Linked DNA regions of Homo sapiens. The protein of the gene in region 2 purifies or fractionates together with the protein of the main gene of each other region. This does not show direct contact. Each region holds a gene or a part of one and is shown on either strand. Other genes may lie near its edges.

Region 1 (7,941 bases), on a different chromosome or scaffold from region 2:
GAGGAAAATGAAACACGTCACACTTCTTTCCCCTACAGGTGGATAACATCTAGTAGCCAGACTCTGCTCTTTTCTCTGAGGCAACAGGGAATGTGTTCCCCTCTAGGTGGTGGTTACCACTTACCGTATTTTGGATCTTGTCTACTGCATGGCTTCTATAATCTCCTGTAGAGTTATACTGCTTCAAAGCCTTCTCATAATTATTCTTAAAGCTGTTCTTAATCTATAGCAAAGAAACACAATGTCAGTAAGAAAATCCTCTAGAAAGTTTTTGGTTTCAGGTCAAATAAGTTCTCGAATCTGACCAATGGTCATATCTTTGACAGCAGCAACATGTATAGTAATTAACTTCCATGGTACAGTCCTGTCCTCTAAGGGGTATAGGTTAGCTGAGGGGACTACTAAGCAAAACATTAAAATATATGATGAGAACCACTACAAGTTCAAAGTGCTGTGGGAATATGTATTTATCTGAGTGGCAATGCAGTATTGCTGTATTCTGCACCCTGCTAATTTTTCTCCACTTTAAACTGAGTTCAAATTCGATGCCTATGGAATTTGTAAGCTACAAAACCTTACTTTGGGAGGCTGTGCTACCACTTTATGAGAACTCTCATTAATGAGCCTTTGCTACTCACCGAATGTTATTTGAACAACCCCAAGTTTACCTGTTTTCTAATTCAGTATTAAGCTTTTTTTTTTTGAGATGGAGTCTCGCTCTGCTGCCCAGGCTGCAGTGCAGTGGCGCGATCTCGGCTCACTGCAAGCTCCATCTCCCGGGTTCATGCCATTCTCCTGCCTCAGCCTCCCGAGCAGCTGGGACTACAGGCACCTACCACCACGCCCGGCTAATTTTTTGTTTTTTTTTGTATTTTTAGTAGAGACAGTTTCACCGTGTTAGCCAGGGTGGTCTCGATCCCCTGACCTCGTGATCCACCTGCCTCGGCCTCCCAAAGTGCTGGGATTACAGGCGTGAGCCAACGCGCCCGGCCCAATATTAAACTTCTGATGATTTGCATTAAGTATATCCAATCTTTTCAAAATGCAAGGCATAAGAAGGTTATCAATTTTGTGCTTTGAATATTTTCCTATCAGCAAAGTTATAAATTGTACTATCTCCGTTTTAATAGGTATTTATACACAGAAAAACGACAGGGAATATAAGTAAGTAATTTTCTTCTGGTGACTATCAGTCTTTACAATTTTCTAAATTTTCTTTTAAATTAGAAGTGGACCAGAATTTTTACAAGAAGGCCATTATTGTCAGCTACAGGTTTAAATACAGAGGTCTGACTCTTCTACTTTAATAAATCCATTTTTATCTCTCAGAGGATAAATGTAACATGCTAAGCTTCCCTAATTCAGGCTTACCTCATGTCTGAAAACAAATCCTACGATGGCAGCGACCAGTTCGACCAAAAAAACGAGAGTCAGAAACATTGCATACTGCAGGATAAGAAAGAAAGTCCAAGTCAGCATAAATAAGATATAGCACAACTGCAAAGGGAGTCAAAGAAAAAATAATGGTCGTCTTCTCAATTAGTTCATCATGTTTTCATTGAAAAGGGCAGGGAAAATAACAACATGTCTATTTTGAAAGTGGAAACTGGCAGCTGAACTGTTACTTGATAAGTTTCCATAAGGAACAGGAAAAATTGTAAAGGGCCATGGCCAGTTCCAACAAAGGAATTCTATAACATACAAAACTTTTCTAAAACCAAGAATCAATTCTAATGAAAACAAGGACTCACCAGTTTTAGCATCCATGCAGAAGCTCGGCAGGTAGCAAAACAACCAAAGGTGCCCAAAAGAATAATGACGGTACCAGTAGCAATGAGCACGAAGGGGACATTGGTGGCCTTCTCATTTAAAAGAGAAAAGTAATTCTCCAGGCTCACCTTGCCCCAAATGCCAACTGCAAGAAGGATAACGCCAGTGATCTATGTGGGAATTCAGAGAATACAAACAGTTACGCACTGTGTACAGCAGCATCTTCAAATCACAACGCATGAGGTATTTAAGGCACAATAGGTGTAATATGCTGGGATACGGCAGACAAGGGGGAAGAGTAGAAGGGGTTAGGGGGGGATCTGCACACAAGAGCAGGCTGTGGACCAGGTATCTTATCAAAATTCTTAAAATTCATCTTTTTGTGTGTAAACACAAGCCCATGGCATATTTGCCCTAGGGATCAAAACTTCCTTAACTATCTTACTCCAACCTTAGGAAGAAAACCTTGAAGGGGAAAAAAAAAACGTGATTTTATGAGTTCCAGAAACTTCCCCCGTCCTCTCCAGGTAGGGATGGGCACAGGGTACAAAGGACTGGTACACAAAAGCAAGCCCAAGGATAGACTGGCGGGAGTGGAGGCATACCATACTTACCTGCGAAACACTCCTCTCTTACGAAGCAGTGAAAAGAAAGACACTATTATGCAAGTGAGCCCTCAAAGGGGCCGGGCAAGCCTTGCTTGCCTTTGCAAAGGTCCAGGGTCACCGTCTGCGTGCTCTGGGGGCTTAAGGCCCCACCTCGCCTCCCGTATCGAACTCGAACGCTGGTACGTCTGGGTCCCAGCTCAGCCTCTCGGCTGCCTTCGTCCCGCACTCCGACCCCAGCGCCGGCGAGATGCCTGAGCTCTTTGTTCGGGGCCCAGTCACTGGTCGCCGGCGTCGGGGTCCCAGGCGCGATGGCCGCCCAAACCCCACACCGTTCCCGACCTGAGCTCCCGCCGCTCAGGGTCACACCCCCCACAACTAAAAGCCCGGGATCCCCTGCCGGCCCCAGGCGCCTTCGTCTCTCACCCAGAAAATAAAAGTGTAGATTAGCAGAACGCTCTTGAAACAAGTAATGACTGGTTTAGTCTGCAGTCTCCGAGACGGGGACGCCATGACTAGCCCGAGACCCTGCACCACCGCACCGGGCGATTGGAACACAGAGAGCGAGACGCGGAGTCCCCGAGTCTCCCCGGAAACTGCCGAAAACTTACGAGCGTCCACAACTGAGAAGGGCCGGAAACACTGTACAATTTTGTAGAGGGTAAAGTATGGGAGGCTGTCCGGAAAGTGGCAACAATTTCAGAGCGCCCCCTGCCGAAGGTTACCGAAAACTATATACAAAGGTTCTAGTGTCGGAAATTTCATAGGTCTTCAAGTGGAGCTTTCTTCATTGTTTTTTTTCTATCCTAAGGAATCTTTCCCGCCCCCCACCCCTCCCCTCTCCTTATAACTTCACCATATTGTTTCTATCACCAGCAGAGCCCGCAGCGCTCTGAGATTGGGCCTCCCTGGCCCCTGGTGCCCTAGAGAGAAGGAAAAGAATGAAGAGGTTAAAAGCGACCTAAGAAAATACATGGGAAAATACCCACAAGAAATATATTTGCAAAAAGAAAGCGGATTGCAAAGCAATACATACAGTCACGTGTGCTTAGACAAAAACTGAAAGGAACAGTGAAATTTACCTCTGGTGGAATTAGGCTGATTTTTTTCTCACTTGTGTGCTTTTCAATTTGTGAACATTGTTTTATGGGTTAGGAAGGGGAGATGTGAATGGAGGAAAATAATCACCACTTGTTGAAAGAATTTCTAAGCTAGGTATTAAAGATAATAATGACTTTAGAATTTACCTGCAGGACTTTGCAAAACCCCAGTATTCCTCTCCTTTTTTATCCCCTAAGTAATTGGAAAGTTGAGGGAAAGTATTTTTACATAATAGTGAAATGTAAGTTCAGCTATTCGCTGTAAACTTTTAAAAAGAGAGAGTGCAATGGAAAAATCCCTGGTGAGTGTGACCTCCTCTTAAATGTTAAAACAGAAAGGCACTGTACATTCCAGCCACCTGGTTTTTCCCATCAAAACCCAGCTGATTACAGAGAGATTAAAACCTAATGTTATATATTGTGAATATATTGGTCTATGTTGTTACAACACAGGAGGTGCGTTAAGGTCTGATTTCTCAACTAAAGCGTCAGCTCTTTGAAGGCAGAGACTGAGTGTTAAGTGAGTTTGTGTTATCTCTAGAGGAACGGGGTTAGAAGGCTGTATCAGTTCCCTATGCAATCCAACCCTTCATCATTGACACAAGCTTAATATCACAAGTGGCTATTTACTCTATTGCCATTGCAAAAAGACCTGCATTTGTGGAGGAGAGATGAATACTCAAACTTTTCTGCTTGAAACGTTGCTTTAAACATACACCTCAGGACCAGAACACAGGAAAGTTCCATTGACTTGGTCACACAGAGCTTCCCTGTGCTTCGAATATTGACCTAGGACCAGTTCCTATAACATCTTGCCAGACGTCTGAGGTGCAAGGCAGCAACTGTTGGAAAATTAATTATTGCATTGCCAGGCTTTATACTAAAATTTTTACTAAAATTTGAAAGGCCTAATACACAAATACATGGAGAGAATGGATAAACGATACATCTACATACACCTTCAAACACTTTGAGGTAAAGTCGTTAGGAAATACCAAATATTCAACATGGTGGAGGGGGGTGTCTAAGTATATGCAAAGATTTCTCCCTAGGCTAAATGACCCCAACTGAAGGGTTCTTATACTAAAAACAAGGATCAAGGGAAGTCTTGATAACTTCTTGTCATCTTAAAGAGAAGTTTCTCTGAAACTTAGATATGTACTGAAAGGGATTTACAGTGTGAGCCCAAGAGCAAAGAAATATGTCTGTAGCTGAAGAAAAAACAAAATAGCAAAGCAAAAGCCACATCTTATTTCCAAGAATGTGTTGACTTTCCTCCTCTCCCTTCCTCTACCACTCACAACGCTGCTTTGTTTGAATAACACTCGGTGCCAAATTAAACCAAATGCTGACATGGAAATTCATATTCCTATGGCTACAACACCTTGCACCATTGCCTCCTACTCTGCTACACCCACTTCCATCTCCCCACCCCCACAATGCCACCAAACCGAGAAATTCAATTTAGTTCAAACCTAGGCCTGGGTTTGGGTACAAACCCAGACCAAAGGGGCATCTAATCCCGTTTAAGGCAATTTAAGAAGTATTTCCCTAGGCCACTAGATAAATGTATTCTTTAAAGTATTAATAATGACTGTGATAATAAGTATTGACTGTATACCAACCACTATTGCTAAGAGCTTGATACACATTACCTCGTATGCACACATCACAAGAACCCTATTATGAGGTTGACACACCTAGCACCTTCATTTTACAGATGAAGAAACAGGTTGAAAGAGACCAAGTAAGCTGCCTAGGACTAAACCTGGGCAACTTCTGTGTCTTTCATCAGAAATGGGGCCCACTTTGTGATGAAACATAGCTGCTGTTGTACGTACAGCTGCCTCTGCGCAGAGTAACCTGAGTAAAGACTGCTGTTGCACAGACATTTAACCTAAAACAAGGACTCCTCGGAGCCTCTGAAGCTTAAGAACCTCAATGATTGCCCCAATTCTGCCTTGCACTTGGGGTTTTTTGGTTGAGTTTGGCTTTTGCCTTCACTCCAATAGCCCAGCCACCTAGGAAGTAACCCTACCTGCCCCAGAGTGGTAAGGCAGAGAGTTCAGTACTTTTTCTTGTTCAACCTCTTAATTTCTCCCTCTTTCTGAGCACAGAAACACAATTTGATGCCAACAATGTAGGAAAAAAGGAAAATACTTTAAGTATTGTTACTGCTTGTTTTACATGGAACATTTAGTAGCCCCCCTTCCCAATTAATTTCCTGTAACCTTCAAGATTAGGTGTAAATGTTTTTCATTGCTAGACATCAGGCAAGGGAAATGACATAAACAAGGGCTCACTGTTAAGTCAGACCTCCCTTGTGCCACCTCCAGCCTCCCTCCATCCCTACCAAGCCCCTCATCCCAATACAATCTCAACTGATTTCCTACTGCTTTTCCAATGTGAATTTTCTGCTCTGTACCAGGTCAGTATGATCAACCCCCCAATTAAACAAGTCCTATTCCCTAGTCCCTGCCCACCCTCAACTTCACTCATACTTTCTGCTTCTACTGAATATCCAGTTCAATCCCAACTCAGTAAAAAGTCCCTCCTTCCTCACCTCTTTCTCTAACACCATAACTGTCTTAACTACACACTCACTCCCATTAACCCAGCCCTTTAGTCAATTACTGCAATATCTGCTTTGCATTTCTACTTACCTATTCTACATCCTACCGTCTAGATGTTCAGAAACTACTGAAGAGCTAGTGTGGCAGGGCCCCTATGCCCCCTTTTATACTCTCCTCAGTACCCTAGGACATAATGCCCAATTGATGAGTTCATTTTCTGCTCGGCCAATCCCTGTTGAGCTGATTGCTCATTGAGGTCATAACTGGTCTCTGGGAGCAACCACATAGTAATTACTCAGGATTGATTGTTGAAATTAAATAAAAAATTAAATGTCTAAGCCATCCCAGTATCACACTATAATAAAACAGAAAAAATTAAATTGAGTACCTAGATAATGTCTTGGGACATTCCTCTCTCTCTCAGGAACCACTAAAATAATAACAACAACAATAATAATAATAATAAACTGTATCGCTGAGTGTACATCTTATCTCTTATTCACATAATAACTTTACCATTTTCATTTTCTAATCCCTTTTCTAGCATCCCTTCAATTACCTTTGGCTAAGTGCCTATCATAGAATTTAAAGGCGCATCCTACTTATTTTCTTAATATCTCATATTTTATGTTACAGCCATCAGATACCTCATTATTTAAACAGTTAATTCATATGTACAGTTTTAAAAATCCATTTCGTTAATGGAATATCTCTTTATTTCTATTGTCTCTTGTGCATTCCCATTCTCCTTCTCTGAAATTCTATTCTTTGTCTATTTTTATGCCCTTGTTTTCCATCCACTCCTTTCAGATGCTCTGTGAAACCTTTCCTCCCTTTCCATCCCTGATCTTGCCTTCTTCAAAAAAGCTCATAATATACAGTTTGGGACACATAGACATGATAAATACTTTTTTTTTTTTTGAGACGGAGTCTCGCTCTGTCGCCCAGGCTGGAGTGCAGTGGTGCCATCTCGGCTCACTGCAAGCTCCACCTCCCGGGTTCATGCCATTCTCTGGTCTCAGCTTCCCGAGTAGCTGGGACTACAGGTGCCCGATACCACGCCCGGCTAATTTTTTGTATTTTTAGTAGAGACGGGGTTTCACCGTGTTAGACAGGATGGTCTCGATCTCCTGACCTTGTGATTCGCCTGCCTCGGCCTCCCAAAGTGCTGGGATTACAGGCGTGAGCCTCCGCGCCCAGCCATAAATACTTTTAAATGGTATTAAAATTGACAATTCTATGTCCATTTTCTAAGAAAGTTGTTTCTAGTCTAGCCTTGTTGAGCTTTCCTGAGATCTCAACTAGGGAAGTCAGTTTCCATATCTAATATTTCGTAAAACAATACCTTATTTACTGCTGAGGGGCTTCATATTAAAAGTCTTAAAGTTGAAAATGGTACTGAACTTTAAGAAACTTAAGAAATTGAGTATGCCTGGATGCTGTCAGTCTCCTTATCCACCTTTGTCTTATCCTCCCAACCAAACCATAAAGAGAGGTGTTTTATTTTACTTTGTAGCCTCACAGTATCTAACGTTGTGTTTTACACACTGAGTATGTGCTGCAGAAACATTGGGGTTATTATAATTAACCTCACTTGTTTTGGGTGAGCTCTTTATATTATTAATCCCAATGCTTTGCAAGAATGCTGTCTCTCTCTTCTGACATATCCCCTTACTTTGATCTCCCTATGATTTCCATATTCTCCCCCTTCACTTTCTTCTTTAACCTCTCTCTGGAACCCTTCTGTCCCACTGCTTCCAGCTTTCAGTGGGATTGAGGCCTTACGCAGCATCTTCACCCTGGCATGTGCTAGGCTTTGTGTTGGATGGCTGGGGATATGAAGAAGACTAGGATAAGGTTCTTGCCCTTATAAGCACTCATAGTCTAGTAGGA
Region 2 (7,820 bases):
AAAAATTTGGGGACCACTGCTCTAAGCAATGCCTCCTCCTTTTGCTCTCAGGACCTTCATTATCTCTTCCTCTGTATCTGCAACCCTGTGCCTAGAATGCTGATTCAAGAAAAAACCCAACACGTCCTTTGCCTAGAACACCCTACCCAAACCCTTGTAAACCTGGTGAGTCCCAGGAATCTTTTCATTCCCAGCTCAATCCTCATCCACTGTTTAGAGCTTTTCCTACAGTCTCCAGGTAGACGCCAAGCATGCCCTCTATGCTAACAATGAGCCTTGTACAGACTTCCAATAAATCTAACTCATATATGTCTCCTGCAGGGTTCCTTGAAGATGTCCCTTGTCATTTTTCAAGTACCACTCCAACATTTAACACTTGGGAACATTCCTCTGCAGGTAAGAAGTATTTTTTTCACTTGCTAATTATCTGGAGTACAGAGCCTTCTCTCAGCATAAGTCACCAGTCCGGAACAAAGGGAGTGTCATGTTAATAACACCATTATTAAAAGACTACAAAATGGCAATGCATGGGAGTGTATTATAATAGCAGAATATAATGTACCTCCTTCACTTCTTTCACTAATTCCCCAAGAGTTTTGCCTTTACTGCAACTGAACAGGGAAGGCCCTTAATGAGTTTGAATTGACCAAATATTAACCAGCCTCCAGTGTGCAAACTGATTTTAAAATAGCCCTTGACCTGGAAATACAGGTGTATTCAAATACACACCCTGATAAGAAAGGACAGACAGGGATAGAGTTCAATATCTATCAGCTTGCCAAGTCAAAAGTTCCTCATGATAAACTCTAAAAGTAGAGCAGTATTTTAGATATGGTTTGAATATGTTCATCCTTGTCTAAGAAATCTTGACAAAACAGGTTACATATAGCAAAGTCTACTTTCAGAAAACAAAATCCAGCTGGACATGTGTCAATAAAAACCAACAGTACTGCATTGATAAATAAATAAATATGCAGCGAGGTAACCTAGTCACAGATAGCTAGAGACAACAGTTCTAATGAGTCAAATCACACTACAGAAGTAGTTTCCATTTTAAATACATTATGGTGTTAAAAAAAGAAAAAACTTAATTCCGAAGGTATTTTATGCATGGCTTCCTGAACATCTTTTCTCTTAACAAAAGCTTGTTAGCTTTGTCGAGTTAAGGAAGTCAGCATAGAGAAGCTGGTATTTCCTTGATGCTAAACTATACCAGTGCTAAAAACAAAACAAAACAAATCCCAACCTAATTAATTCTATTTTGGGTCTAGTTTCCAAGGCAGTTTTCACAAAGACTATTCTCAGCCCACTGTTCCTAGTTTTGTAACTTCAACCTTCAGTAGCTGGAAATTGTTATATTTTGGGTAATTCCTTGACACTTATGTTTTATTACAGACTCATTTTATTCTACTTACTATCAAGGGTAAGGGGAAAAGTGTCACTACATTGATTCCATTGATTCTAAAGTTTTAGTACTAAGAATCACGTTTACGTTTATTTCGTGATATCATGTGATATGTTCCTATTAGGGCTTTGTAATTTGGGTTACATCAAACTCATCAACATCAACTTTCAGGTGGAATCCTCCCCAAATCAGAACTGCCAGCCAGTCTCAGCAACCACATAAACCAGAAGAAAAGGAATCAGGAAACTTAGATTCTAGTTTCAAGAGCCACGAACTTGACCTTGGGCAATCCACCTCACTTCTGTAATTCAAACTGCAATGCCTGCTTCCAAAGTATGCTTCTAGAAACAGTTTACGTGTTTTGGGTTTCTCAAATAAAATGGAATTTTCTAAACAGACGGTTTGATACAACAATCTATTCTCTGGTCCAATTTCCCAAACCATCCAGTCCATAAGATCATAAAACTGCATTTCTTCACAAGTTCTTACTTGCACCACTATATTACCAAACACGCCCGAATTCCTTTTCTAGCTTTAAACAGATAGTAATATCGCATCTACTTATTCTTAAATGTGAAAGAAGAGTAATCTATAGAAAAGGAAGTGAAAAGTCTTCATGAATTAACGTCGGGTTATATGAAATCTACTGGTAGACAGAAGAATTGCACTGTCTGTCGTGTACTCAAAAGAAGCTGGAAGATTACTATTATGTCACGTGCATGATACTCTAAAACCTCCAAAATCTATCATACTGAAAAAGGATGGAGAAAATGTAAGTGCATATGGGGCAGCGCGAGAAGCCAAGCCTCCCGCGTCAGGATCCGATGAAATGATACAGCCGACGGTGGCACGTCTCTAGTCCTTACTAACTTTGTTCCCTCTACTGAAAAGAGAGGTGAGGTGGCAGCTACTAACTGCACTGCAGCCCCTAGGAGGACAGGTTCCCTCCTGATTCCAGCGTCGGCCCCAGATCCTGAAGAAGGGACCGGAAGAGGATGAAGCTAAACTGTAAGCCGGGTTGAGTGGCCCATTTCTCCCGGGCAGCGGCCGCGGTCATCCTGGGAACCTCACCGCCACTGGGATCCCGGGTCCCGACCCCCTCTGGAGAAGGAGGAAGCAGTGCCAGGCAGGGAGGAAGGTGCACCGGCAGCGTGCAGCCTCACCTGACGCTGGACGGGCCCCACCCTTGCTCTCAAGTGTCCCGCTTCCAACCAGGACCCAGCCAGGGCGCGGCGTCCGCCTCTCTCGGCTCCACTTACTTTGTCGCTGGTGCTCTCGGTTTCGTGGTCGCCGCCGGCCGCCTCTCCCTCGCGGTGTGGCGGCGACACCGCTTCCCTGGGGCCGGGGCAGCTTCCCCGGTGCCTCAGCTCCAACATCTTCCGCTCCCGCGCTGCCGTGGCGGCCTCCTCAAGCACCCCGAAACCTGAGCTGCAAGCAGGGTTCTGCAGGCGGGGCGCCCCGCCACCTCGCAGCCGCGCCCTGGAGTCCCGCGGAGCCGCAGCCACTAACGCGGCCCCACCATAGAGCGGCCGCCGCGCCGGTCACCTCCAAAACGGCATCAACGAGAGAGCGCTCGAGGCCGCCTGCAGCGAGCGCGGCTCCGGCGGAGGTCCCGGGCAGGCTCCGGGCGCCAGGCGCGAGCAGAGAAGGCGGAGACGCGGCCTCCGGTTGCCAGGTGCGCGTCTCCACGCAGAGGCCCAGGTAGGAGGAGGAGAAGGGGCGGGGAGAAAAGGAGGACGCTTGACCCGCTTTAGCGCGGCTCTGGGCTCCCGCCGCCGCGCAGGCCCCTCCCGCCCCGCCCCCCGGAGCCGGACTCGGAGCCGGCTTGTCCCGGCCCCGCACACTTCTCCCTGCCCGGGCCTCCCGCACCAGGTCTCGCGCCGCAGGCCCCGCCCCTCTGCGCTGCACTGCGGTTCCCACAGCCCCGCCTCCCCGTGAGGTGACGTCAGGAGCCCGGCCCGCGACCCCGCCCCCGCCTCTGCGTGCTGGCAGGTGGGGGCCTGAGAAAAGGTGGGAGCGGTGGGGCGGGAGGAGGCTGAGGAGCTGGGAGGCGGAGGCGGGGCCAGCGCGGGCTGGAAGTGAGCGTTGAGAACTTGCAGGCTAGTCCCTGGGCCGCTGCGAGGGCTGGAGGAGCTACTCAAAGACGCCCGCTAAATGTTAACAGCGCTCAACACTGCTGCTTCAAACGCCTCCCCGGCCTTGTCAGCTTGACACGCGCGGCGGGTCGGAGGCTCACTGGACCAGAAACTTGTCTGGCAGGACGGACTGGTTGGCCCCGCGGCATTCCAGCCCAGTGTCATCACCTTGAAAACAGGAGATGCTTTTGCCTCACTGGGCGTCCAGAGGTGCGTCGGCCAACAATTCCGATCACAACCGCAGCGCCGTCTCCCAGAAACTCAGTACTGAATCTCACAAAGGTCACCACCTAGGATCCCAACACAGTGTGAGATGCTATGGGACGCCGTTGCCCTCCAGCTAGTCTCTGAGCAGTGGTGGACCTTGGGCTGCCAAAGCGGGAACAGGAAGGGCACAAGATCTGCATTAATTCTAGTCTTAATCCTGTTAGAAGGTGATTAGTTTTCTTGACATGTATCCGCCACCCGGTCATTACTGACAAGCTAACAAATGAAAAAAAGAGAGAAACAAAGAGAAAAAAGAAAAAAGGCGGGCCTTCACACAGGACAAGGTTCAGGAGAGCACCCTTATAGAAATAGATCAACTATGTAAATTCCTCAAGGTCTTTACTGACACGGTAAAAGTAAGTAAAGTGTTGAAAATTTACTAACAAATGAGCAAAACCAAAAGTCAAATTAGGATGCATTGAAAAGCAGAACACAAAGACATCATTTTACCTCACCAAACAGATCTTTGAAGCTGTGCGGTTAGTTTGGGTTGCACGTTTTCAAAAGGATGTCGAGAAACCATAATTTGTTCCTTATGGGGTGGATAACTGAAATGACAGAGAAGATTTGAAAATAAGTCCCTACTGAACAGAGAACTATGGGGTGACTACATTAATAAATTGTCCAATTGTTTGGAGGATCGGAAATGAAGGAGTGCTTGATAGTGAAGAAGATAATCAGAATAATGGCTGAAGCCAGTAGTAGGGTTTCCATCTCTGGCTACTACCCTACCCTGCATAAAGGATTAGAAGTGCTCCATTCTAACTCTCTGGAAGTCAAGAAGCCTGAGTTCTAGTGCTGCCAATGCCACTAATTGCATGGCCTTGGTAAGTTATTAACCCTCAGTGTCCTCAGCTGTAAACGGATAGTAAGGATGGCCTCTGTGGTCCCTTTTAGCTCTTAGACGATCAGAATCCAGCCTTTGCTTTCCCCCATGGTCCAAGAAAAGGAGACCTACTACACAAGGTACCTGAACAACTTCCTGTTTCCCCTTTGCCTAGTCCTCTCATGGCCTCTTTGACTTTTTCCCTTTGCTGCAGGAGGAAAAAAGAGAGTGAGAGGAGTGACAGAGGGGAACAACAGAGGACAGTAGTGCGTGATAGAAGAAACAGTATTCCCCAACCCAGGAAAAGTGGGACCAATGCAAAGACTGCCAAAATAGAATGTGAGGTTCTACTTACCTCACCTTCCTTAAGCTCTGCTCCTTCTTGTGTTTTAGCTAAGAGAGCAATTTCTTTCAATCTTCTTCATTATAGCTATTACCACTAGTTGAGTGAATAGACTGAGTCCAGACAGCAGAAACTGGCTTATTCATCTTTACAGGTCTAGCTCTTTCCACAGTGCCAAAAACCACCCTTCTATAGGTAACAATGTTTGCTGAAGAGGTGAATGAAGAAATGATGGGATGGCAAAGGTATAGCACAACAAGGGAAATTTATACAGTCATATGTTGTTTAACAGTGGGGATACATTCTTAGAAATGCATCATTGGGCAACATCACAGGGTATACTAAACCTAGATGGCATAGCCTACTGCACACCCAGGCTACATGGTATAGCCTATTACTTAGACAACTGTAACACAATGGTAAGTATTTGTGTATCTAAACATAGAAAAGGTACTATAAAAATATGGTATTATAATCTTATAGGCTACAGTGGTATATGTGGTCCATTGTTGACTGAAACATTGTTATGCAACCCATGAATGTATAGTATTTATGGTTTCTTCATTTAAAGTCTATTTTAGACTTACATAGACACTTTTCTTCATTTTCACTTTATATCAGAGAGAAGTTGATTTTAATACTTATTAAAAGTGGTTGTAGTAATGACTTTATTTTACTTAAGATACTGTACAATATACTCAACCACAACTGGCTTACGGAACTCTGTGTTCTCAGACTTTTTCTATGTCTTTTTTCTAATTTTTCCTTTTTCTTTCTTTTTTATTTTTATCTTTCGTTTTCATTCAGGGAACTTATGTTCTCTAAATTTATTGTATTTGTGTTTGGTAACACAAAATCTGGCGTGTAATGGTTTCTAAGGCTTTACCTGTTAATTTTTCTTGTATTTATCCTGCTGAAGGGCTTCATGGAAACCCTAAGCATATGCATGGGCCTAATCACGTAGTACAACCCAGCCAGCACTTCTTGGATTGATTTTAAGATTTTCCAGCCGGGCGTGGTGGCTCACATCTGTAATTCCAGCACTTTAGGAGGCTGATGCATGAATGTCTCTTGAGCCCAGAAGTTCAAGACCAGCCTGGGCAACATATGGAGACCCCATCTCTACACAAAAATTTAAAAATTAGCTGGGCATGGTGGCGTGTGCCTGTAGTCCCAGCTACTTGGAAAGCTGAGGCGGGTGGATTGCTTGGGCCTGGGAGTTCGAGGCCTCTGTGACCCCTGTTCACTCTACTGCACTCTAGCCTGGGTGACAGAGTGAGACCCTATCTCAAAAAAATTAAAAAAAAAATTTTAAAAAAAATTTTTTTTCACCTTCTAACTCCTAATGAGGAATTTGCTAGAGAGATGAGAGAGAGTGCTAACGTTATTGCTTATATGGTTTTTATTTTAGATTACTGTTTACCTTCTCTTTTGCTGGAAGTAATAAGAGCATAAGATGCAGAGACGTTGCCTGAAGTAGTGAGAGTAGATGAAGCAGTTTGTTACCACTCTTCCCTGAATACCCTCAGAATGTTCCCAGACTGATAAACATGCCCCTCTGGGGTGGGAATGTGAATCTGAGCTGCTTTTCACATCAGAGGCTCAAAGGTGCCCTGCTGGAATGTCCCCAGCTTGCCAGGGGCGGAAGAAATCTTCCTCAGCCAAGCGTTTCCAGTTGCTTAGATACCCAAGTAACAGCTTTTGTCGCTTGACCTATCTTTCTCTGTTGCCCTCTGTCAGCTTTGTTTATAAGTTAGAGGTAGGAATTTCTGATTTAGGCCACCAGAGAAACATTTTATGGGAAAATCTTGAAAAACAACTTATATTTACATTTTTATTTTTAATGGAATTGCACGGGAAAATAATGGTGTACTATCAAGTATTGTAGTGAGAGAGTATCAGAGGAGAGAGTGCTATGGTGTAGTTAGAAGTATGGAGTTTCTATACCAAGAACCCTGGGTTTGAGTCATAGCTTGAACCTAGCTTGAATCATAGCTTGAATCTAGCTGTGACCTAATTTGCTTTCAGCAACATTTTCATCAAACACAGCTGAAGCTATATCCTAAATGACATGTTCCTTCATAATTTAAGTAATAATTCTTTACATAACACTTTACAAAGCACTTTCGCATGCATTATTTCATTTCTTCTACTCAACAATCTACAAGCTAGGCATAACAAATATTACTCCTGTTTTACAAGGAAGAAAACCTGAGGCTTAGATGTAAAGGGTTAGAAAGGAAAGCTAAGTTTTTATACTTAGTATAAGTATAAAACTTATATTAAGTTTTATACTTCAAAATCTGCCTGGTCCATGATGTAGTACAAATATATAGCAGCAGAAACAAGCAACTTCTAAAGCTGGGGGTGGGGGTTAGTTTGTTATAACAGGCACATAAATTCTGAAGCTAGCCTGAGTTCAAATCCCAGCTCTGCCACCTACTGGCCTTAGGCAATTAGCTTCAGTGTCCTTGTGCAAAATTAGGATAAGGTAATATTTTCTTCCTAGGATTCTTATGAAGACTAAACTGGTTAATATATGTAAAATACTTAGAATAGTGTCTGGCCATCGTGAAGCACCACACAAGTGTTACTTATTACTATCATTCATATTATTGAAAGCTACATTTCTTGAGGAGAACAATATTTGACTTCTAAATTCGCTAAACTGCAACACCCCAGAGGACTGTGAAGAAATAAGGATATGCTGATATTGCTTTGGTGAGGTAGGTAGAAATTATGAAATGGGGTAGAGAGACTTTGCAAACAAGTACAAAGAAATCAGCCTACCCAATTAGTTAATTTGTGCCTTATCCTTCTGAGGTAGTACAATTAATGAATTTG

What was found.
Region 1: the proteins of CDS1 (region 2) and TSPAN6 purify together in Homo sapiens (affinity purification with mass spectrometry; 2 studies listed by BioGRID and IntAct, with this or other methods). This does not show direct contact.

Annotation. Positions count from the first base shown.
Region 1 is NC_000023.11:100,633,807-100,641,747, forward strand, and holds the start of TSPAN6 (tetraspanin-6), read right to left. Parts: upstream 3,001-7,941; 5' UTR 2,889-3,000; coding exon 2,802-2,888; exon of another isoform or gene 2,385-2,801; intron 1,941-2,384; coding exon 1,752-1,940; intron 1,447-1,751; coding exon 1,372-1,446; intron 224-1,371; coding exon 125-223; intron 1-124.
Region 2 is NC_000004.12:84,578,363-84,586,182, reverse strand, and holds the start of CDS1 (phosphatidate cytidylyltransferase 1), read right to left. Parts: upstream 3,057-7,820; 5' UTR 2,782-3,056; coding exon 2,665-2,781; intron 1-2,664. UniProt on the Homo sapiens protein: Catalyzes the conversion of phosphatidic acid (PA) to CDP-diacylglycerol (CDP-DAG), an essential intermediate in the synthesis of phosphatidylglycerol, cardiolipin and phosphatidylinositol.